3 separate regions of the Homo sapiens genome follow, and regions 1 and 2 are each linked to region 3. Evidence: fine-mapped expression QTL. A gene starts in region 3. Each other region holds a variant in brackets. All regions are shown on one strand. Distances are between the middles of the regions. Region 1 overlaps FOXK1 (forkhead box K1). Region 2 overlaps FOXK1 (forkhead box K1). Region 3 holds the start of FOXK1 (forkhead box K1).

The links. PIP is the estimated chance that this variant, and not a neighbour inherited with it, causes the effect.
Region 1: its variant is fine-mapped to the expression of FOXK1 in testis (GTEx, PIP 0.90).
Region 2: its variant is fine-mapped to the expression of FOXK1 in pancreas (GTEx, PIP 0.93).

What each region holds. Positions count from the first base shown.
Region 1 is chr7:4,757,198-4,765,453 of GRCh38, reverse strand. It overlaps FOXK1 (forkhead box K1), which reads right to left. Exons shown (of 9, transcript NM_001037165.2): 6 at 6,237-6,403; 7 at 5,859-6,143; 8 at 4,166-4,390; 9 at 1-3,270. The coding sequence ends at 2,990. Among named protein-coding and RNA genes, the nearest start is that of AP5Z1, 14 kb to the left of the region's middle. RefSeq lists an enhancer at 3,834-5,033. The variant T/C (reference allele first, on the strand shown) is at 5,134.
Region 2 is chr7:4,745,457-4,753,456 of GRCh38, reverse strand. The region is part of intron 2 of FOXK1 (forkhead box K1); the gene reads right to left. Among named protein-coding and RNA genes, the nearest start is that of AP5Z1, 26 kb to the left of the region's middle. RefSeq lists an enhancer at 3,114-3,613. The variant G/A (reference allele first, on the strand shown) is at 4,873.
Region 3 is chr7:4,678,993-4,687,222 of GRCh38, reverse strand. FOXK1 (forkhead box K1) reads right to left here and starts at 4,928. Exons shown (of 9, transcript NM_001037165.2): 1 at 4,355-4,928. The coding sequence starts at 4,914. RefSeq lists enhancers at 3,544-4,071, 4,931-5,225, 5,427-5,927 and silencers at 4,628-4,697, 4,848-5,217.

The sequences.
Region 1 (8,256 bases), 78 kb before region 3:
CACGGCTCAGGGTCACAGGCCGCCCAGGCTGGGGGCTGAGGCTCTCCCGGTCCCCCTGGCCTGTGCTCTTGCTTCTGCGAAAGCGCCTGGCTGGGAGGCGCTTGCTGGGCTGGCTCAGGGCACACAGGGAGGGCTTTGTGGCCGGGACATGCAACCCTTTTGGGCCCTGTCCCTTCCTGGGCCTCTGGCTACCGGTTCCAAGACAAGTTCCGGCATGAGCCAGGCATGGTACCTGCTCAGATGACCAAAAACTCTTTCAAAATCTCATGGTTATGAGCCCAGAGCAGTGGATCCAGGACCCAGGCCTCCTCTCCTTGCCCTCCTCTCCCTGCCCTGCTCCGAGTCTGAGCCGACCCCTAGGACCACGTCCCTTCATCCCTCTTTGCAGTCCCCGCAGAAGCTAGACAGTGCAGAACCCCACACGGCAGAATGCAGCCCCGGGGTCCTGTGCTCGCCACCTCCCGGCTCCATCCACCACCCCCTTTCCACGCCCTTGGCAATGAAGCAGTGAAATCAGAGAACGCTACCGCTAACAGGAAGAATGCGCTGCGTCTCAGAAGCCAGGAAACCACGTGGGTCAGGGCCAGCCTGAGCAGACCAGGCCAAAAGGCGACCTCGATTTGTGACCAACACGTGGTGCAATCCCAGCACGCGGCGCTCCCTGCAGACATCAGCTTGTATTGAGGAGGCCAACCTGCAGTGGCCCAGAAGCAAACAGAGGTCTCCCATCAGGGTGGCCACAGGCAGCCCTGAGGACATATAGTCACCACGCGGGAGAGAGCAGCAGCAGGTAATCACAGAGGCCCCCCGTGACGGGCGCTCCCGGGAGGGCGCCGGCTCAGGCCACACAGGCACCGGTGTCGGGGAGCCACCTCCAACCCCCACCCCCCGTTCTCTCACGCCATGCACGCACACACCAGGCACCACGGAAAGAAAAGGCCCACAGACAACAGCAGGCGACACAAGTGTGGAACGGGGCGCAATCTCTCACCCTCCACGGACGTAACTGCACCCAGGACAGCCGGCTGTGTTCATCCTGCCCCCGTTTCTCTGAAACCTCACCCAGGGCAACAGGTACGGACTTCCACAAAGAGCTTATTTCCCATGGAAAGGTTAGTGCCATAGAAACGACTCAATTCGGGGGGCTTAGAAAAACAACGGGACACGGGAAGGAAACCGAACAAGGGGTTTTCTCTATCTAGGTGGAAGGAGGGGGCCCACAGAGGTTCTGCACTTGTCCTGGGGGACGGGGACTCTGATGGGGGCCACGGGCGACCCCACTCCACTGCACAGCACGTGTGTCCTCCCGCACTGCCTCGGAATCACTTTGAAAAGTGTTCTCCCTTCTTCTTCAGGGAGACACCTGTCCAGCCACCTCCCTCAAATGCCCTCCAGGCACCTGGGTCCCTCTGCAGCTCTCCCGCCAGGGCCTGGGCAGAGGCTGCTTTGCTGGTGAGAGGCTGTGATGCGGAGGACGGGCGATTTCCAAGAACCACTGCTCCTCAGGCACTTCCGGAGCTCTGCGTCGAATCTGTCGCTGTTTCTCGTTGTGGTCCCGGACAGGAGAGCCAGCGCCGGAGCGGCCAGCAAAACTGACAGCTGACCTTTACGAGGACGCACTTCGCATCTCCAAGACACACTGAAGGACTCCTCTCTCCTTCCTGAGCTGGGCTCAGCATTAGACAGCTCTGGCTCAACGCTGCTTGGTGACAAAGATCCAGGAACCACTGGCTGTCTTAATGGAAGTGCAGGAGGGGGCTTCCTCAGGGACCCCAGAACCACCCAACTGGCTGGAGCATCCCGTCCTCCGGTTCTCACCGTGTGGCAAACAAAACCAGTCGCGTTGGCGGGGGCTGGGCGTGGAGGCACAGGCCTGCTCACCACTGCTGCTGGGGTGGGGTCTCCTGCTCACGGACAGCCCAGGGAGGGGCCCTGGAGTTTCAGGCAGGAGAAATGGTTCCAATTGAAAACAGCAGATCAATGTGGGAGTGGTGAGGACTCTGCAACTGGGTGAAAAAGCAGCTGGAGCAGATGGCGTTTGGCACTGTTAGGTCCCCATGTGGCCGTCAGCACCGGGACATCGGAGCCACGGATAATTCGGGAAGGTCTGGTCTGCAGAGCAGCGGCCCCAATCGTCCCCAGCAGCGCGATGTCTGCGGCCGGCGGATCCAGGCTCACCTTTCATCCTAGGAACCTTCCACCGCGAACGCCAACCCAGGAAGCCGCTGCTCTTACTTGAAGTTATCAGACAGAGCGGCAGGTTTACTCTTCGAGGGGATTAAACCCAGCGGGAACCCTGGACCTACGGCCGGTCATCAGACGTCAACAGGTAAAATCCTCAAAAATACATGATCCCTTTTGTGTCTGTCTCAGGTGTACAATGAAGTCTGAATTCCATGTTTAAACAAACAAAGAAAAACTTGGGGTCTGAAGTGAAATCGGACACCCCCCGAGTTAATGCCAACACTCTCTATGTCACGTTCCGGGCGGAGAGGCTGTTAGGTGGTCCGTGGCTCGGCAGCTCCTGGCTTCCCAACAGGCATCTGTCCGGTGCCCGGGCCTCCCCGGCAGCCTTGGTGTGTGCCTTGCTGCGTTTCTGTCTGTCCTCCCGGACAAAGGCGGCTGGCCGTGCAGCGCGGAGCGGAGGGGCTGTCTTGACACATTCCTCAAGATGCTGAGCTCCAACCTCCTCCCCATGCCCGACAGGGAGGCCTGGGGAGAGGAGGTGGTGCCGAGGGAGAAGGAAAGGAAAGCAAAGAATTCCCAGAATCATACAATCAGTTGTCTGAACTTGTTTATGTGTTTTTGTCTTAAACCACGGGAAGGCAGGCGATCAAATGGAAAGGGCTGGGTGTGTCCAGGTGCCGCCGATGCCCACAGGCCGCCGCGGGCTGTTCTCCTCCGTCTGTGGGTGCGGCCGCCTGAGCTGCCGGGTCCAGCTTCGGGGTCGCCGCTGGGTGAGTCCCACTCCCCCGCGTTGCAGGTGACCTCACTCCCCGGTGCCTGGCCCCTGGGGGCCGGCAGCTGCGATCACTCCAGCCGGTGTGGTTACAGCACCACTGGGCTCCTCCACCCGGGACCTTTTGACCTCGGGCTCTCCAGTGGAAGAGGCGGAGGCAGAGGCGGTGGTGGCAGTGGCTGGGGTGGTGGTGGCCGTGGCCGCGACGGCTGCTGCTGGCTCCTTGGGCCCCACCTCGCACACCCGGGTGACCACCACCGGCGCGGATGAACTCGCTTGGGTCGCAAGGAGCTGCAAAGGGCTGGTGAGGGCTGGAGTGGAGGAAGAAGAGGGTTACTCTGGGGTCTGGTTAGGACCCAGCTGCTTTTTTCAAGTCCCCTATACAGGGGCTAAGCCACCAAGCCGGAACCGGAGGTCAGTGCACCCCTGCCAGGCAGGACGGCTACCCTTGCTCTGCTCCCTGCGGGCCCTGCCGTCCCCTCCCCACCTCATCTGCCCTGTCTCTGCTGGCTCCAGCCTGTTGGGTGGAGGCCCCTCTCATTGCTGTCTAGATCCTGCTGGACATCGACGGCTTGCCTCACTCCTTTACACAGATGCACTGCCCTGAGCCACCCCACTGACAATGCGCCCGGTGCCCTGGTACCCTGCACCCCCGCCCAGCACCCTTGCACCCCAGCACCCCAACTCTCCTCCTTCCTTTGACCTCTTGCCTCACCCCATGGAGTGTGAGCTCCAGAGAGTGGGCAGATCTGGGTTTTCCTTCCACCCTGTTTTCTTTCCCCCCACTTTTTTTTTAAAGGGACAGGGTCTCGCTCAGTCACCCAGGCTGGCAGGTAGCGGAGCAATCACAGCTGACTACAGCCTCACTCTCCCAAGCAGCTGGGACCATGAGCGTGCAACACCACACCTGGCTAAGTTTTTGAATCTTATGTAGAGATGGGGTCTTGCTATGTTGCCCGGGCTGGTCTCGAACTCCTGAGCTCAAGCGATCTGCCTGCCTTGGCCTCCCAAGGTGCTGGGATGATAGGTGGCCCCTTCCACCCTCTTTTTCTTTGCATTACCCCAGTGCCTGGAGTATAGCAGGTGCTCAATAAATTGAACTGAGTGGAGGATCGGGAGATACTGGGAGAACATTCTCATGCCGCACTGACTACTGGGAGCCACAGAGCTTGGGATGTGGCATGGAGAACAGGGCCAGGGCCTCACCGTAAGCGTTGCCGGCTAAACTGTTCGTGGGAACCGCATGCTTTCCGTTCTGGGTCACGGCCCGGACTGGAAGGTGGTGCTGCCCGAGGGTCACGGGTGTGGCGGGCTGCAGGATGGTGACCGTGTGTCCGGGGACCCCGGGGGCCATCTGGCTGGCCACCGTCTGGATGACTCCACCAGCCGCGGGGATTGTGGCAAACGCAATGGTGGGTTTCTCCTCCAGGCCTGCGGGACAGGAACCAAGTCAGCACCACACTCGGCCAACGAGACAATCGATTTCCTCGACGCCTGGGCAGCAGGTCGGACAAGTGGGGAAAGTGAGGTCGGCACTGGGAAAAAATAGGTTTGCTAGAGGAAAATCCCATGGGTGAAATAGGTTTGGGAAGAAAATTACTAGGGTTTTAGAACAATATTTTACTTACTTATTTATTTTTTGAGACAGAATTTTGTTGCTCTGTCGCCCAGGCTGGAGTGCAGGGGTGCCATCTCGGCTCACTGCAACCTCCGCCTCCCGGGTTCAAGCGATTCTCCTGCCTCAGCCTCCTGAGTAGCTGGGACTACAGGCGCCTGCCACCACACCCGGCTAATTTTTGTATTTTCAGTAGAGATGGGGTTTCACCATGTTGGCCAGGCTGGTCTTGAACTTCTGACCTCAAGTGATCTGCCTGCCTCAGCCTCCCAAAGTGCTGGGATTACAGGCGTGAGCCACCGCGCCCGGCCTAGAACAGTATTTTAAATACCTTAGCTTTAACCAACCCAAATTTAGTCTGAGAAAGAAAACGTATTACTTGGAATGAAATGATCCTGATTACAGCTGTAACTTGGCCTTCCCTCACCAAACTGCAGTTTCATTACGGCAGCATTGAAACAAACACCACCGCGGAGAGGAAGTCCAGGGTGGAGAGTGGCCTAGGAGGGCGCTGCCTAACTGCAGGCGTTCCGGAGAGGAGCTTCTGGGGTCAGCTGCA[T/C]GTTCAGTGTCTACCCCGTCAAGCCCTGGGATCGGATTTCTTTTAGCAATTCAGAACTACTTTTTCCCTAAATGACTTCTAAAGTCTTTAACTTACGAGGGAGTCGAAAAGAACAGTCTTCCCAGGCTCATTCTTTCTCCTGCAGAAAACACTAAATTCCAAATGCATGCAAGGCCGCAACACAACTCAATTTAACGTTACCTTAGGGCAAGGACACAGCTATGTGCATCCGAGGGCCCTGTTCAACAAGGAAGGACACATCTGCGGAGATTCATGGGTTTTTTTTTTTTTGAGACAGGGTTTTGCTCTGTCGCCCAGGCTGGAGTGCAGTGGCGCAGTCTAGCTCACTGCAACCTCTGCCTCCAGGCTTCAAGCGATTCTCCTCCCTCAGCCTCCTGAGTAGCTGGGACTACAGGAGCGCATCATCATGCCTGGCTAATTTTTGTATTTTCAGTAGAGACGGGGTTTCAGTATGTTGGCCAGGCTGACCTCGAACTCCGGACCTCAAGTAATCCACCCGCTTTGGCCTCCCAAAGCACTGGGATTATAAGCATGAGCCACCTGCCCAGCTCATGCTGATTTAAAGGGACAAGGCAGCGAGAGGCAGAAGCAGAGAATCATCCTCCTCAAGCCCCAGGCCCAGGCCAATGGCGCTGCCTTGGGGACTTGCCGGCCGGGACCACCACAAAGGGTCCTGCGAAGGCTGCCAGCCGCGGCTGCATTACCTCTGGCCTCGCTGCCCAGGTCCAGCACGGCTGCGCCCGCCGCATCATGGGAGCCCCCCGCCGCGCCCTGGCTGGTGAGGATGTATCCGTTGGCCGAGTTGGCAGATGTGGTGACCACCCTGACCATGGTGACGGTGGGGGCCTGCTGCACGACGTGGATGGCGTGGCCCGCGGGCTGCTGTGAGGTTACGATGGAGGCGGGCATGTAGGCCACGGGCTTGGCCACGAGGCTGGACGGTCGGGGAGGCACGGCCATGATCACTGGCTGGGCGCTGACGGGGGAGCCTGCACGGAGGGCGGAGAGCGGACGGTGACCCCTCCCGCACCCCCACGAGTCCCGCCCCGCCCCGCCCCGCAAGAGGGCCGCCCGCTCCTTACCGGGTGCGCTTTGGGAATACCGGTACTCTGGGACAGAAGCTAACTTGGACCCAAACTCAGGGTCGTGTGGAATGGGGGAGCCCTCCCGAGACAGGCACTCTGGGGTCTGCAGGCCGCCGGAGCGAGGGGACATCAGCCCGGGGTGTGTGGGCGAAGCTGGAGCGCTCCTGGAAGACAGGCAAGGGCCGCGGCAGTCAGCGCCCGCGCTGAGGGATGCGAGGACGTTTCCGAGACATCACGCATCTCAGCGCCGTCACCCGCCCACGCTCCCTGGAGCTCGTCTCTGTCCTCCGCATTCAGACGGTGAGAAACGCCCCCGTAACCTGAACCCAGCCTTTAAAACTCCATTTGAGTGGGGGCTGCATGGGGGAGGCTCCGTTCCATGAGAGGGGACGGTATCATGTGAGGTGCTGCAGTGAACGCAACAACCTACGGAGTTCACTTCCACCGAGGTCCAGCCAGGTGTCCATGAAAATGGCCCAGGCCTTCTGTGCCAAAAACATAAGCTTCTGTTTGGTGGGCGCAACCGTTCCACCATGAAAACTCTACCCGAGAGGGGTGTTTGAACGTCATTTGGAGCTCAGTTTAAATGCTGCAAATGACGTTCGAACACTTTTTTGAAGTCCTACCTCAACCATACGCCCAGTTCACCTGAGAATCACAATGCCAGACCCTGTGCTCGAAATGAATTTTCAGATATTTCAATCTTTCATCAAATCGTGTTGGAAACAGAATTTTGAAATGGGAAGCACGAGAGGTTAACGTGTCCTTCCACGGGGAAGGATTTCCGAGACTGCCGCTCAGGAGATCTCCTCCTCGACACCTGGGACGGGCTCATCTGATGGGCAACCTGGGAAGCGCTGCCCAGACCGCTCACAGGCGGTGCATGCTCCTCCAGACTGGGCTTGGCCAAGACTGAGCTGGGCAGGGGAGGCCCTGACGCAGCAGGTGGGCAGCAATGGCTGGGGGAGGGTCTGTCCACCCCGCCGGCAGCAGAGCTGCGTTCCCAGCATCTGCGAAAAGCAAAGGCGGTTGTGGGCTCCCCAGGTCATACCCCTCATCTGTCCCTTCGAAGATTGGGCTCTCCCCGGGTCCTCTCACACACTGCAACAGAAAGCTTAGTGCTACCAAAAGACCCACAACCGCAATCCATTTATTCTTGGCCTTAGGAACCGTTCCTATTGCTACACACATTTCCACTTCTAAGAACTAAAATCTTATTTTTAATACAACAGTCAGTGGCTTACTTAGTAACCTTACTATTTTAGGAGTTCTTGGTCCTGAGATATTCTCTCAAAACAAAAACAGAAAATGGTGCAGTCTTTAAGTGCCGAAACCAGCAGTCACCCCTCGGTACTTGAGGGGCGGGGGTTGTGGGTACCAAATCTGCAGATGCTTACCCAAGTTCCTCATAGAAATGGTGTCGCATTTGCATACAACCTGTGCACATCCTCCTGTAAGCTTTAAATCATCGCCAGGTTACTTATAATCCCTAACAAATGTACCTGCTATGTAAACAGCTGTTGTAGTGTGTATTGTTTCATTTGTATTACTTTTTTTTTTTTTTTTTTTTTTTTTTTTTTGAGACGGAGTTTTGCTCTTGTCGCCCAGGCTGCAGTGCAGTGGTACATACAATCTCGGCTCACTGCAACTTCTGCCTCCGAGATTCAAGCGATTCTCCTACCTCAGCCTCCCCAGTAGCTGGAATTACAGGCACCTGCCACCATGCCCGACTAATTTTGAATTTTTTTAGTAGAGGCAGGGGTTTCACCATGTTGGCTAGGCTGGTCTCAAACCCCTGACCTCAGGTGATCCACTTGCCTCGGCCTCCCAGAGTGCTGGGATTACAGGCGTGAGCCACCGCGCCGGCCTTCTTTTTTTTGGAATATTTTTGACCTGTGATCAGTTGCATGCCCGTACACTGAGCCTGAGCCCACAGATCCGGAGGGCTGACTGCGCCACGTATCTCTAAACTCCAGGGCAGCTCAGCTTTCCTAACAGCTGGAGGACGGGCGCTCAG
Region 2 (8,000 bases), 66 kb before region 3:
GCCCTGCAGGCCACCCAGAACCATCCAGAACCACCCAGAACCATCCAGAACCATCCAGAAGGTCCATTCTCCTCCTCCCGCCTTGCTGCCCTTTCCTCTGCCAGGAACATCCTTCCCTAACTGTCCAGGCACAAGACTCCTAGATCTCCAAAACTTAGGTTAAGTAGGAGCCCCCTTGGGTGCAGGCGGGGCTCAAGAAACATTTTTTGGATGGAGCAGAGGAATGAATGAAAAAAATCCTGTGGCTGAGAAAAACCTGACAGCTGACATTAATGATCAGTTCAGGTCTGGGGCATTTTCAGGAAGGACTCAGTGTCACCCACATGGAACGTTAAGGACTCTGATCTGGAATTCCCATTCTCTCTTACAACGGACTCCCCAAATATGGCAGAGATAGGTAAGTTCCACACGTGTCGAAACTTAAATGAACACCCACAAATGGCTCGATCGAGGTAGGAAACAGTCAAAAGGAAACCTTTTCTGAATTTAGTTCTGAATCCAAAATACAAAACCCAAGTTTACAAGTAAGATGAGAAGGGGAGAGAAAGGTTTTGACTGGTAACAGCACACAGCCCCCAAAATCGGCTTTGTCAAAGGCCTCTGGGAACCAAACACCTCCCTGCTGAGGCAGGATGGCCTCATGGCCGGAGGGGCTGCAGACAATGGGGCCAGCACACGCCTGTGCACCCGGTCCCAGACCCAAAGCCACTGGACGTCCCCCTTGGACTCAGCAGGAAGAACTGAAATGTCAGTCCTTGCTGGGGACCACTGAGCCGAGGTGTCACTCACATACACTCTGATCTCCGGCCACAGGCTGGGGAATGGCCACTCAGCTCGGAAAATCTCATCCGAGGCCCATGAGGTGGCAGGCGGGCTCCTGGATCCTTCCTGAGGACCAATGAGGGGCACCCCCCAGCACTCCACAACAAACAGTGATGGCCCAGCACGTGTGGCAGGGACCTGCTCCTGTTCCCAGCAGTTATTTTGCAGAAGATCATAGAAAATTCATGTCTGCCGGGTGCGGTGGCTCATGCCTGTAAGCCCAGCAATTTGGGAGGCCCAGGCAGGAGGATCGCTTGAGCCCACATGGTCGAAACTAGCCTGGGCAACATAGTGACACCCCCATCTCTACAAAAATATTAACATTAGACAGGTGTGGTGGTGTGCACCTGTAGTCTCAGCTACTCAGGAGGCTGAGGCAGGAGGACTGCTTGAGCCTAGGAGTTTGAGGCTACAGTGAGCTATAATTGTGCCACTGCACTCTGGCGGAGCAAGACCCTGTCTCTAAAAATAAATAAATAAATACATAAATAAACAAAGTTTTAACATTTTAAAAATTAGCTGGGCGTGGTAATGCACACCTGCAGTTCCAGCTGTTCAGGAGGCTGAGGCAGGAAGATGGCTTGAGCCTGGGAGGTCGAGGCTGCAGTGAGCTATGATCACACCACTGCACTCTAGCCTGGGCAACAGAGTGAGACCTTATCTCAAAAAACAAACAAAAAACCTCATGGAGTAAAACCCACAGGAAAAGTTGTCATTCCCCAGAGAATGATTTCAAGTGGAAATAAGAAAGGTTGGCGAAGCCTGGCTCCCACAGGCGAGAGAGTAGGGTGGTTTCTCCGCCACTTTCCCCAGCACTGGACCTGGCCTGGGCTGCCGGATCCTGGTGTCACTCCAGCCGGGACAGGTACGACAGCGCAGCTTCTGAGGTTTTCCAGCCACCTGGGCTGAGGGACCACATGTGTTTGTTCACATGGCTCCTCCAGCCCTCGGAGCAGCCCGTCTCTCAATAAGCCCCATTCAACTGTCCTCCGCAGGCGGGCCTCGGCCACGGGGCTGTGCCTGGTACCAGGCTCCTGATACCAAGGCCCCCGATACCAGGCCTGCAGCTGACGGAGGCGGGAAGCAGAGGCTGCTCGAGCCTCACAGCCGCTAAGAGCTGTAAAGTGCCCTGGGGGAAGACAGGTCTGAGGGCGCCCAGCCAGGGTGGGATGGGACACCCAGCTCCAAAGCCAGAGGCCTTGGAGCCATCCGGAAAACTAATCAAGACATCCCATGTCTGATGCTGGGAGTCCACGGAAACATTCCCTTAGCAATCTAAAGAAAATGCTGGGCCGGGCACGGTGGCTCACGCTTGTAATCCCAGTGCTTTGGGATTGGTAATCCCAATGCTTTTGGGATTACCCGAGGAGGGTGGATCATGAGGTCAGGAGAGCGAGACCATCCTGGCTAACACAGTGAAACCCCGTCTCTACTAAAAAAAAAATACAAAAAATTAGCCGGGCATGGTGGCAGGTGCCTGTAGTACCAGCTACTCTGGAGGCTGAGGCAGGAGAATGGCATGAACCTGGGAGGTGGAGTTTGCAGTGAGTCGAGATTGCGCCACTGCACTCCAGCCTGGGCGACAGAGCAAGACTCCATCTCAAAAAAAAAAAAAAAAAAAAGTGCTGAAGGCCAGGCACGGTGGCTCACGCCTGTAATCCCAGCACTTTGAGGGGGCCGAGGTGGGCAGATCACCTAAGGTCAGGAGTTCGAGACCAGCCTGCCCGATTTAGAGAAATCCCGTCTCTACTGAAAATGCAAAATCAGCCAGACGTGGTGGTGCATGCCTGTAATCCCAGCTACTCGGGAGGCTGAGGAAGGAGAATTGCTTGAACCCGGGAGGCAGAGGTTGCAGTGAGCCGAGATTATGCCATTGTACTCCAGCCTGGACAACAAGAGTGAAACTCTGTCTCAAAAAAAAAAAGATGGGAGACCGAGGCGGGTGGATGACGAGGTTAGGAGATCGAGACCATCCTGGCTAACACGGTGAAATCCTGTCTCTACTAAAAAATACAGAAAACAAAATTAGCTGGGTGTGGTGGCGGGCACTTGTAGTCCCAGCTACTTGGGAGGCTGAGGCAGGAGAATGGCGTGAACCTGGGAGGCGGAGCTTGCAGTGAGCAGAGATCGTGCCACTGCACTCCAGCCTGGGCGACAGAGCGAGATTCTGTCTCAAAAAAAAAAAAAAAGTGCTGAAAACGACGGCATACACGTGCACACATTTCCTCCTGCGGGAATGAGAAAGAGCAGGAAGCTGAGGGGACCCCACTGCTCCCTGACAGGGACCACCAGCTCAATTCCAGGAAACAGGGAATCACTCCTTCTGGGGTAAGTACCCCAGGCCTCGGTCAGGCCCCCCCCAGTCCCTAGCTGCCCAGGTGTGGGACGCAGAGGCTGGACAGTGACAGCCCACAGACGTCGCGGGAATCAAACGCCTGTGCCCCCCGATTGGAGGCTGAGAGAGGGAAGAAGCACAGTAAGCAGCTCACCCCTAGGCCCTGATTTTGCTTCCTTTATATGGAGGACAATTCCCAAGTCACATTTCCGCCTCAGGCGAGAGAGCTGGAGGATTCTGAGTACGGGTCTCCCGGAGCTGTGCTCACAGGGACAACCCCATGCTGACCCACCCCGGGCAGCCTCCACCGCATCCAGGGGCCGGGCCTAGAAGGTGCCACTGGGACCACCCAGGACATGCCAGTGCAGGGAGACTGCAGAGGGACGGACGGGCTGTGGGACACACAGGTCGCTGGGTCACGTTATGATGAGAAGTCACGCTGAGAAAGGCAAATCCAACAACAGACCTAAAGCCACCTCTGGAGCCGCCAGCTGGGCTCCGTCCCCAGAGCCTAAGACAAGCCTTCCCCAGGGCACAGGGCTGCGGTCCTTCCAGTCCACCCTCAATGCCCTTGGCTCTGCTCTGAGGCTGAGAAGGCCACCCTGAGAGGCCTAGGGTCGGGACAGTTATCGCTTCCGGCAGGCCCAGGGAGGACAGTGCTCTGTCAGAAGGGACCTGATCCCTCCTGAAGCCCTAGAGACACAGAGGGACCCGCCTGGAGGGGCTGGAGGAAGGAGCTGCGACGGAGCCTTGTGGGCAGTGGAGGGGCGAGAAGGCTGCGGGGGTCTGCGATGACCTTTGCGTCCCAAGGCGGCACCTGAAGCCTCCTGGGGGAACCTCCCTGCAGAGGAGGACGCTTGGGGTCCCTGCCCCAGCCCCTGCTCCAATACCAGCCGCTCTAAGAGGGTTTTTAGGACCTCACTGTTAAACACAACAGCCGGCCAAGGCACATCTGTGGTTTGAGGAAGCTTCTACCAGGTGGAACATGGTGCAAAACAGAAGAGAAGAGGGACCCAGGGAAGCCTACGGGAGCTTGGGAGGAGATGAAACATGGTTCCCGTCCCTAGGGAGGTAACGATGCCGTCTCTGTAGGACAGTAAGAACAGCATGCAAAGCACACCTGCAGAGCAAGAACACGCTCTTCAAATTAAAAAATAAGAATTCAAAAGAAGAGAAATACAAATCCAAGAAAGGGTGGAAGGAGAGACTGGAGAAAATCCCTCAGAAAGTAGAGAGAGAAAGGAAAGGAGAGGCATGAGAGACTCAGCTCAGAGGCCCGCCAGGCACAGCCAGTCCCAGAAGCGTGGACAGGAACCTGGGGGTCCAGGCGAGGTGGCTCACACCTGTAATCCCAGCGCTTTGGGAGGCTGAGGTGGGCAGATAACTTGAGCACAGGAGTTCAAGACCAGCCTGGGCAACATGGGGAGACCCCACCTCTACAAAAAATACAAAAATTAGCCGGGCATGGTGGTGCACACCTGTAGTCCCTACTACTCGGGAGGCTGAGGCAGGAGGCTCGCTTGAGCCCAGAAGTACCAGCCTGGGCAACAAAGTGAGACCTTGTCTCTTAAATCAGTGAATAAATGAAAAGTCTGTCTCCTGTGCCCTTTCCCAGGAAGCGACTGGGGGATGGACTCTGGTAAAACAAAGGAACAAATCAGGAAAGAGGAAGACGTGGGAATCAGGAAACAGCCCTCTCTCCACCACCACCTCCT[G/A]AGGGGATTCCCAGGATGGTGGAGAAGATGATCCCATGGTCAGAGGGGCCCCAGAGGAAGGCCTTCACAGTAAAGGGAGAAGAGGCCATTATTAACCCCAAGAGCGGGGGGAGTGTGGCGGAAATAAGCCAAAAGTACAAGGAAGGAAATGGCTAAGCGCTACAATCACTACACAGTTCTAATACAGAAAACGCTCATGCAAGGTAAACCAGACATGATGATGTAACTTTACTGGGATGGGGAGGGGGGAAGCTAAATCCTTAATTTCCATATAGGAACCTCATGTGTAATATCTAAAACGGAAAAACCAAGAGACAGTCACGTACGAATACGACTCAGAGACACAGAAGTGAGAGAGAAGGGCTCAGCTCTGGGGAGCGTTGTGTGGGGGAATTTTCACTTTCTGAAATGTTTGCATTTTGTAAGATGCATATAGATAGATAGATAGTCTCTTCGTAATCTGAAAAAGGAAAAATAAACAAATAGGGAAAGAAAATTTTCAGAGGCGAATTTCTTAGAATGATCTTAAAGAATGTGTTCCTTTAAGATAAATCCGACATTGTAAAATGCTGGGAAGCTATTTTTAAAAATTAACTAGTGGATTGCTCCTGTAGTCACGGCTGAGGTGGGAGGATCGCTTGAGTCCCGGAGGTCGAGGCTGCAGCGAGCCGTGACCGGACCACTGCACTCCGGCCTGGGTGTCAGAACAAGACCCTGCTTCAAAACAAAACAAAAACAACAAAGGCAACAACAACCACAACAAAAACAGGCCCAGGCTTGTAATCTTGGCACTTTGGGAGGTCAAGGTGGGAAGACTGCTTGAGGCCAGGAGTTCAGGACCAGCCTGGGCAAGACACCATCTCAACGAAAATAAAAAATGAGCTGGGTGTGTGTGGTGGTGGGTGCCTGTAGTCCTAGCTACTCAGGAGGCTGCAGTGGGAGGATCGCTTGAGCCCGGGAGGTTGAGGTTGCAGTGAGCTGTGACTGTGCCACTGCACTCCAGCCTGGGCAATAGAGTGAGACCCTGTCCCAAAAAACAAACAAACAAAAACAAAATCAACCCCCCAAACCCAAATTGGAACCAGCATTAAAAATAATAATTTAGAAAATAAAATTAACTTGTTTCTGAAGTGCACTTTGCCCTGGTGAGAATAACCAGCATGGTGGCTTCAACAGGAGCTGCTCTCATGTTAGGCATAGACCTCACAGAGCTGAGTGGGTGCTTGAGCGGAGAGGCGGCCCCGCAGCTAGGCAGGTTCCGGGGTCAGCTCCGTGTCTGCAGGCGCCTCCTGCTTCCCCTGAGGCTCATGGAACCCGGAAAGGGCTGTCCTCGTGCGTAACATGCCCGCACAGAAGCCATGCAACAGGCCTACTCCACACAAGCCGCTTGTCACCCGAGGCTGACCTGAGAAGTCGGGCGCTAGGACCCTCCGAGATTACAGGAAACGCGGGCGTGGGGATGTCCTTTCAACAGATTCGGACAAACACAAGGACTTCCCTACCAAGCTTCATTCCGAACTCCCAACACTTTAGCGCCAAAGTTGCCCCTCGAAGGGATCTAGGCAGGAGGGAAAAATAAAAGGAAGACAGAAAGTCCCAACCTTCCCATGTGGAGGAAACAATAGTTACTTCCCCAGAGTTCTCAGCTGGGAAAAGACATAAGAGGGTGTGGTGGGGTGGGGAGGGGCAGCAAGGCCTACAGGGACAGGGACAGGCAGACAAGGGAAGAGGGACCCTCACTGGATTTGCAAATGCTGGCACAGCCAGCCCAGATCAGCCAGGCAGGATTCCCGCTAGGGGTGATTCACACATTCGCACCACAATCCTCCTGCAGCCCTGCTGAAAACACACGGAAGGCTGCAGCCACAAACTTGTGTTTTTTAATTATTAATTTTTTGAGACAGGGTCTTGCTCTGTTGCCCAGGTTGGAGTGCAGTGGTGACATCATAGCTCGCCACAGCCTCCAACTGCTGGGCTCAAGCGATCCTCCTGCCTCAGCCTCCCGAGTAGCTGGGTCTAAAGACATGAGCCACTGCACCTGGCTAATTAGCAAAAAAATTTTTTTTTTTAGAGATGGGGGTCTCACTATGCTGCCCAGGCTTGTCTGGAACTCCTGGCCTCAAGCAATCCTCCTGCCTCAGCTTCCCAAAGTGCGTCACCACACCCAGCCAACCAGAAACTTTGAAAGAGATGAATCACCCTGCAGGAAGCTACCAAAGTTGTCAGAAAAAGGAGAGTATTTCTAACGTAGATCCAATAACCTCCAAACTCAAAAGACCTCTAACTTTACAAAACAACATAAACCAAGTTAGGACTGAATGTTATCTAGCAATAAGACAGAACTGTTTAAAAATCATGATTAAAAGGGAAAGATTTTGAAGTCAGTTGCTGCATTTTTACTGTATATTTACATACTGCTGACCTTCGCCGAATTGTACGAGTTACTTTCATTTTTGATCTCCACGTTGGAGAAATCAGGAAGAGCCTTAAGAGAAACAGCTCTTGAAGTCTTGCCCTCATGAGCAAAAACAGTCACTCTGTGCAATGTCCTTTCACTGAATTTCAGCAGTTTTCTTAAAACTCTACCTCTAAGGAACACTTTTTAGACTGGTGTCTGTCTGATGGAACCTAGAAAATGATTAACTACTTGAATTCTTTCATTAAATACTTTAATTCCTTCCTAAAAACACTTTTTTTTTTGAGATGGAGTCTCGCTCTGCCGCCCAGTCTGGAGTGGTGCAATCTTGGTTCACTGCAACCTCTGCCTCCTAGGTTCAAGCAATTCTCCTGCCTCAGCCTCCCAAGTAGCTTGGATTACACACCTGGCTCATTTTTGTATTTTCAGTAGAGATGGGGTTTCACAATGTTGACCAGGCTGGTCTCGAACTCCTGACCTCAGGTGATCCGCCTGCCTCAGCCTCCCAAAGTGCTGGGATTACAGGCCTGAGCCACCGGGCGCCTGGCCTGTAAAAATCCTTCTTTGCAAAAAGGAAAGAAAAGGTCAAACTTCTGCTAAAGATAGCAGAATTTATTTCAAAGAGAGTTCATTCATTTTCTGGGTGGAGTACTTCAGGGCAGAAAAAAATAAATCAGAAACACACACACACACACAAAACCACACACCCACA
Region 3 (8,230 bases):
TGGTGGCTCACGCCTGTAATCCCAGCACTTTGGAAGGCCGAGGAGGGTGGATCATGAGGTCAGGAGATCCAGACCATCCTGGCTAACACGGTGAAACCCCGTCTCTACTAAAAATACAAAAAATTAGCTGGGCATGCTGGCAGGTGCCCATAGTCCCAGGTACTCGGGAGGCTGAGGCAGGAGAATGGTGTGAACCCGGGAGGCGGAGCTTGCGGTGAGCCAAGTTCGCGCCACTGCACTCCAGCCTCGGTGACAGAGCAAGACTCTGTCTCAAAAAAAAAAAAAGAAAAGAAAAAAAATTAAGTGGCATCAAGAATGACAGCACACACACACATGTGCACACACACACCTCACCCCCCTCCCCATAACCGAAGAAGGCTGTCTGAATTCCCCCCCATGACAGGCTCATGGTCCTTTTAGGACACCAGACTAAATCGATGACGCCGTTTTTCTCCTACAGAAGCTGCAAATTCATGTGGTCATTAATTTGTTCACTCAACAAACAGAACCCAGTTGTTGCATACCTAATAGGAGCCAGTGCCTGCACTAGGTCTCTGGTGAAACATCATAAATTCTCGGCCCCAGCCACAGGGAGCTTATGGTCTAGAAGAAACGCTATCACGGAGACCCGGGCAGTTCCTCCAAGTCAACACCAAGCAAAGCTGAATCAGAACCCACGCACACTCCCCCTGTGCCTGGGAGCTCTGGCGAGATGCTTACCCACCAGGCGTAGTGTCACCCAGTAGAGCAAGATCAGCTCTAAGCTGGGTCACAAGTCTTTTTTTTCCCCCACCAATAATTAAAAATATTGAAGATTTGGAATTACGTACTTCCAGTAACAAATAGGGGTTGAATTCTGGCATCCTTCCTGAGTGGGAGCTCTACTGGAAGTGTGTGTGGCATGTACCTGTCCCAAGGTGAAGAGGGTGGCCCCGGACAACACAGCTTTGGAAAATGGTGTGGGCACCAACACAACATAGACCTCCCACCAAATCCAAGCACGTCCAAGGCAATCACATTCCAACACAGCAAGAGAATCTGTAGTTTACAGTAAACAAATTCACAATTTCCAGTAGCAGTGGCAATACCAGGTACCAAAGCCGGAGAGAAAACAGACACAGTAATTCCTGACATTCGGTGATGAATTTCCCATTCAGGGTGACAAAAACTTACGCATCTAACTTCCTTGCGCTGAAATCCTTAAAATTTCTTAATGACTTTCAACATAATAGGCTTAAGAATCGTTTTTTGGTTTTTTTTTTTTCATTTTGTTTTTTATTGAGATGGAGTCTTGCTCTGTTGCCCAGGCTGGAGTGCAGTGGCGTGATCTCAGCTCACTGCAACCTCCACCTCCCGGGTTCAAGCGATTCTTCTGTCTCAGCCTCCCAAGTAGCTGGGACTACAGGCGTGATCCACCACGCCAAGCTAATTTTTGTATTTTTAGTAGAGACAGGGTTTTGCCACATTGGCCAGGGTGGTCTTGAACTCCTGAACTCAAGTGATCCACCCGCCTTGGCCTCCCAAAGTGCTGAGATTACAGGCGTGAGGCTGTAGTCCAGGCTTAAGAATCTTTACCTAACCAAATGTAGTCCAGGCTTAAGAATCTTTACCTAACCAAAAAAGTTTATGACAGCCTGTTCTACATATGTGACTACTTAGGTGTAAGTTTTCTAAAATTAAAAAAAAAAAAAAAAAAAGTGAGGCCGGGCGCAGGGGCTCACGCCTGTATGCCTGTAATCCCAGCACTTTGGGAAGCTAAGGCAGGCAGATCACGAGGTCAGGAGATCGAGACCATCTTGGCTAACACGGTGAAACCCCATCTCTACTAAAAATACAAAGAATTAGCTGGGCGTGGTGTTGTGCGCCTGTAGTCCCAGCCACTCAGGAGGCTGAGGCAGGAGAATCTCTTGAACCCGGGAGGTAGAGTTTGCAGTGAGCCACTGCACTCCAGTCTGGACAACAGAGCGAGACTCCATGACAGAAAAAAAAAAAAAAAAAAAAGCAAATAGCTCTTTTCTAGGAGGGTGGACATGGACATCCACTTAATGTTTTTCCTTCTGCACATTTGCTTTGTTCTTGTAAATTTTACATTGCTGCCTACATAGATATTGCTCACATGTGCAGGTGAAGTCAAATAAAAACAGACAGGCGCAGTGGGCCAAGCACTTCACGCACATCTAATGCACCAAGTCAGCGGGCGGGCATCTGTGTAGCCTGACAGCCCCACCACAATGCCTGGTAATGCACCCACCGAGAACACGAGCTCCCTGGAGCATAAATGTGCAAGGACTGTATACACCGATAACATTTCATAAATAACAGGCTTGCTACTGGCCTATTCGTAGACGATCTGAGGTTGAAATTTTTTCCCCTTGAATTACAAAAAAAAAATACCGTGAAAGCCTCCTTCAAGATTCACTAAAGCTGGGCCTGACTCAGGAGTGCACCTGTTTCCACGGCAGGGGCAGGAAACCTGAAAACAAGACTTTAATGGAAGTACTTAGTGAACCTGAGTTATATAAAGGTGCGTCTGTAAAGCAGGCCTCTAAGGGGGGCCTGGGGAGCCTACCTGTCATTTTCTTACTGGAGGGGAGAGTGGCCAGGAAATGCATTTAATGGCCCCAAACGGAGAGAGTGTATTGGTTATGGAAGAGAGAGAACACACTAATATCTGAGGCAAAGAACAAATTTGTTATCTCCTGAGTTCTGATTTTACCAAAATGCACACCTTTCAGCACGGTTAGAAAAAGGTATACTTCCCCTCTCACGCCCCAAGGGGGAGTGAGTCATTGTTGATGTTGCATTTTAAATTATTCAATGCGATATCTGTAACCAAACATGCCAAGACTAAAAAAGGGGAGAAGTTTACAGACACAAACTTTGGGCCCTGGGAATTACCCCAGCAAAAATTCCCCAGACGCAAGGCGTTTATAAAAGGGAGTAATTAGACAGACAACCCTGAACAAGAACCACATTGAAGAAATATAAACACTGGTGATGAGTTAGAGGCAATCACTAAATAGAAAAAGAAAGTGGCTCCAGAGGAAATGAGTAATTAAACAGGCTTTCTCCTGATCAACAGACCTTGAGGTCCGGGGCAGAGCAGAGGGTGCGGAGGGCAGTGGAGCTGGAAAGGAGGGAACCGGAATGGGCGGGAGGTGACCACGGGATGCTACCAAAGGCACCGACAGGCCTGGGCAGCCGTCCAGGCCCAGCTGGGTCTCTCTGCCCTGGTGACCTCGGGCCCGGGGGAATCTAATTTGATCTTGGGGTCCCGCTACTCCATCCAAGGAGCACTAGTTGGGGATGTAAACTGAGGCACAGGCTTCCTGTCCTCGCCCCTCCCCGCCAGGCCTCTGCTCCTTCAGCACAGCCCACACTCCTAGGGACCTCGCACTTCCCGGAGCAACACCCTCCCACTGTCCTGGGTGAGTGTGTTGGGGTCCCCCAGGACCCAGACTGGATGGGGTGGGGGTGGCCCAAGGGTCCAGACCAGACAGGGTCAGGGGTAGCCACTGGGGTCCAGGACGGCAGGCATCAGGCACTGGGGTGACTTGAGGCCCTGGCTGGTGGGGGTCGGGGGTGGTCCTGAGAACCAGGTCAGGCTGGGGTGACCCTGGAGTCCAAGCTGGTGGGGGTCCAGGGTGACCTGGAAGGGTTGAGGGTGATCCCCAGGCCCAGGCAGCAGGGACTGGGGTCAAGGTGACCTCAGTAACCCAGCTGGGTGGAGCTGGGGTGGGAGTGGCCCTGCGAGCCCAGGCTTGTGGGGTTAGCGGTCAGGGGTGACTCCGGGGGGGCCTAGGAAGTGGGGGTCGCGGTTAACCTTGCGTGTTTAGGCAGGGTAGGGACGTAGATGACCCCAGGGATCCAGGCCAGTGGGAGTTCAGAATGACCCCGGAGTCCAGGCCGATGGGAGCTGGGGAGCAGCAGGGATCTGGGTCAGGGGTCTAAGAGGCCCAGCCAGATGGGCTTGGGGTATGGGTGGCTCCAGGAGCCCAGGCCGGTGGGAGATGAGGTCAGGGGTGACCCCAGGAGCCGCAAGGTGTGGGTCAGGGCTGACCCCAGAGTCCAGGCCGGTGGGGGTCGGGGGCGACGGGGTATCCAGACCGGGGAAAGTGGAGGAGATCCTCAGGCTGGAGCCTCCAGGATCGGGGTCGGGGTGATCCTAGGGAGCCAGGAGGCGGGGGTCGGGGTTGACCCCGGAGTCCAGGCCGGTCGGGGGTTACCGGGGGTGGGCCGGGGGGTGGGGGTCGAGGCCGAGGAAGCTGGAGGGGGATCCCCAGGCCCGGGCCTCAGAGATCGAGGTCGTGGGCGAGCCCCGGGTGCGGGCGGCGGGGGTCGCGGGGCCACTCACTGCTTGGGCAGCTGCAGGGCGGGCGCGCCGCGTCTCTGGAAGGCCCCGTCCACGAAGACGCCGTTCTTGCCGAGGCAGCGCAGGTAGAAGTGCGGCTCCTGGAAGCTGAGCTGCAGGTGGCGCCGCGAGATGAAGCTGGACAGGCCCATGCTCAAGTCCACCGAGCCCTGCGACGAGTTGCGGCCGATGGTGACGCTGGGCTGGCGCATGAGGAACTCGAACTCGCGGCCCTCCAGCCGCGCCAGCGCCGGCCCCGGGCTCTGCCGTACCGAGGCGGCCGCCGCGGCCACCAGGGCCGGCGCCGCGCCCGCGACCGCGGAGTCCCCGGATACCCCGGAGGAGCCCCCGGAGGAGCCCGCGCCCGCGATCGCGCCCGGAGGCAGCGGCGGTGGCGGCGGCGGCGGCGGCCCGGGCGGAGGCTGGGGCTGCGCGGGGGCCGGCGGGGGTGCGGCCGCGGGGAAGGCGGCGGCGGCGGCTGCGGCGCACAGCACTGGGCTGCAGGGCGCCGAGCGCAGCGCGAGCAGGGCGCGGGCGCCGCTGTCCTCGCCGACTTCGGCCATGTTCGCGCGGCTCCGAGCGGCCTCCGGCGGCGGCGGCTGCAGCGGCGGCGCGGGGGGCGGGGAGGTCGGGGCGCTGGGCGGGCGCGGAAACCCGGGCCAGATCGCGCCGGCGCGGAGCGGAGCCTCCCAGCCCACCGTGCGCCTCGCCTCGCCCGCCCGCCGGTCCCGCCCAGCGTAGCCCACGTGGCGCGCGCCAGCGCGGGGCTGGGGGCGAGGCCTGTGCCGGGAGGGCCGGCGGGCCCCCGGGAGAGCTGGGCCCGGCGCACCTCGTCCCCTCCCCGCGGGGCTGCAGGCGGCGGGCGCCCTTTCCTCCATCCAGGGGGAAGAGGGGACCCCTGAAATGCCCAGCCACAAAGTTTTGAGCCTGGGTCATTGGAGAAAGGGACGGATGACCTCAGCAGTCTCCCCGCCCCAGACACTCCAGGCCCCCAACCCTAAAGTGTAAGATAGACAGAAGATAAAATATATGTGTATTATATACAATACATATGTTTATATTCTAACCTCGCTCTGTCGCCCAGGCTGCAGTGCGGTGGCAAAATCATAGCTCACTGCAGCTTCCACCTCCTGTGCCCAAGTCACCCTCCTGCCTCTGCCTCACAAGTGCCACCACGCCCAGCTAATTTTTTTACTTCTTATAGAGACAGGGTCTTGCTATGTTGGCCAGGCTGGTCTCAAACTCCTGGTCTCAAGTGATCTATCTATCTCGACCTCCCAAAGCACTGGGATTACCCGTGTGAGCCACAGTGCCAGGCCTGATCATTCTTAAGCCCTCAGATTAAAGGTCATCATACTCTACTGTAACTGAAGACCACTTGAGATCCATCCCTGAATCCCTGATCCATCCTTCCTTCCTTCTTTCCTTCCTTCCTTCCTTCCCTTCCTTCCCTTCATTCCTTCCCTTCCCTTCATTCCTTCCTTCCCTCCCTTCTTTCCTTCCTTCCTTCCTTCCCTTCCTCCCTCCCTTCCCTTCCTCTCCTTCTTTCCCTTCCCTTCCTTCCTTTCCTTCCTTCCTTCCCTCCCTCTCTTCCTTCCTCCCTCCCTTTCCTTCCTTCCTTTCCTTTCCTTCCTTCCTTTCCTTCCTTCCTTCCCTCCCTCCCTTCTTTCCTTCCTTCCTTCCCTTCCTCCCTCCCTTCCCTTCCTCTCCTTCCTTCCCTTCCCTTCCTTCCTTTCCTTCCCTTCCTTCCTTTCCTTTCCTTCCTTCCTTCCTTTCCTTCCTTCCCTCCCTCCCTTCCTCCCTCCATTTCCTTCCTTCCTTTCCTTCCTTCCTTCCTTCCTCCTTTCCTTCCTTCCTTCCTTTCTTTCTTCCCTTCCTTCCTTCCTTCTTTTTTTTTTTTTTTGAGACGGAGTTTCGCTCTTGTTGCCCAGGCTGTAGTGCAATGGCGCAATCTCGACTCAACGCAACCTCCACCCCCTGGATTCAAGCAATTCTCCTGCCTCAGCCTCCCAAGTAGCTGGGATTACAGTCATGTACCACCAGGCCCGGCTCATTTTGTATTTTTTTAGTAGAGATGGGGTTTCTCCGTGTTGGTCAGACTAGTCCTGAAAACCCGACCTCAGGTGATCTGCCCGCCTCAGCCTCCCAAAGTCCTGGGATTACAGGCGGGAGCCACCGTGCCCGGCCGCCTGCCTGCCTTCCTTCCTTCCTTCCTTCCTTCCTTCCTTCCTTCCTTCCTTCCTTCCTTCCTTTCTTTCCCTCCCTCCCTCCCTTCCTTCCTTCTCTCTCTTTCTTGTCTTTTTCTTTTGAGACAGGGTCTCACTCTGTCACCCAGGCTGGAGTGCAGTGGTACAATCATAGCTCACTGCAGCCTCAACCTTCAGGGCTCAGGTGATTTTCCCACCTCACCCTCCCAAGTAGCTGGGACTATGAGCCACCATGCCCGACTAATTTTTAATTTTTTTTTTTTTTAAGGCAGAGTCTTAATCTGTCACCCAGGCTGGAGTGTAATGGTGCAGTCTCGGCTCACTGCAACCGATTCTCCTGCCTCAGCCTCCCAAGTCGCTGGGATTACAGGCATCTGCCACCACACCCAGCTAATTTTTGTATTTTTAGTAGAGACGGGGTTTCAACCATGTTGGTGAAGCTGGTCTCAAACTCCTGACCTCAGGTGATCCACCTGCCTCGACCTCCTAAAGTGCTGGGGCTGCAGGCGGGAGCCGCCTCACCTGGCCTTTTTCAATTTTTTTATAGAGACAGGGTCTCATTATATTGCCCAAGTTGGTGTTCAACTTTGGGGCTCAAGCAGTCTGCCACCTCAGCCTCCCCAAATGCTGGGTTACAGGCGTGAGCCACCACGCCCAGCCTATCTCTCTTTCTTTCTGGAGCCCTTCACTCATTCAATATGCTAGATCCAGCTAAGACAGATCTGAGAGAATGCCCCAGAGAGAAATCTTAGCTGAAAACAGGGAGTGGCAAACGTGGGCATCATTGGGATCCCTTTCGGACTTCAGTAGCCTGGTCCTCCATTGCCAGTTCAGGTTCCCCTAAAAAGGCGGTGCAGTTTCCACATTTCCCTCATTTACGAATTATTAAGGGTGGGAAAGGAGACACAGTTCCCTCCCTGGTGGAGCTTATAGTTGAGGGGGAGATGCAGACATAAATCAAAGACACATCCTAGAAAAAGTAAAATCAAGTCACAGCTGTGATACATCCGGTGAGGGACTGGTGCATGGTGACGTGCAAGTGTAAACGAGAGACTGGGCCTGTCTAAGGCAGGAGCTTCCCTGACCTGCACACCCACGCTCCAGTCTGGGGCTGAAATAGGTATTAATCTCATCTCTCAGCCTTGAATATGTGCATGCAGAGATAAGTGTTTGGGAGGCAAGGAAAGCTTTTTTTTTTTTTTTTTTTTTTTTTTTTTGAGACAGAGTCTCGCTCTGTTGCCAAGCTAGAGTGCAGTGGTGCGATCTCGGCTCACTGCAACCTCTGCCTCCAGGGTTCAAGCAATCCTCCTGCCTCAGCCTCCCAAGTAACTGGTACTACAGGTGTGTGCCACCATGCCCAGGTAATTTTTGTATTTTTAGTAGAGATGGGGTTTCACCAGGTTGGCCAGGGTTGTCTCGATCTCTTGACCTCATGATCCACCTGCCTCGGACTCCCAAAGTGCTGGGGTTACAGGCGTCAGCCACCGTGACCGGCCAAGGAACGCATTTTTAGCAGGAGCAGTAACTTGAGTACCTGCTTGATTGAGGTGGGGGGGATGGTAAACAGAGTCAGGGGGCTCCTCCTTGAGGTCTAAGGGATGCCTGATTAGGGAAGTGGTGTGAGACTGTGAGGGTAGTGCCCCTGCCAGGGAACTCTGTGTGATACAGAAGG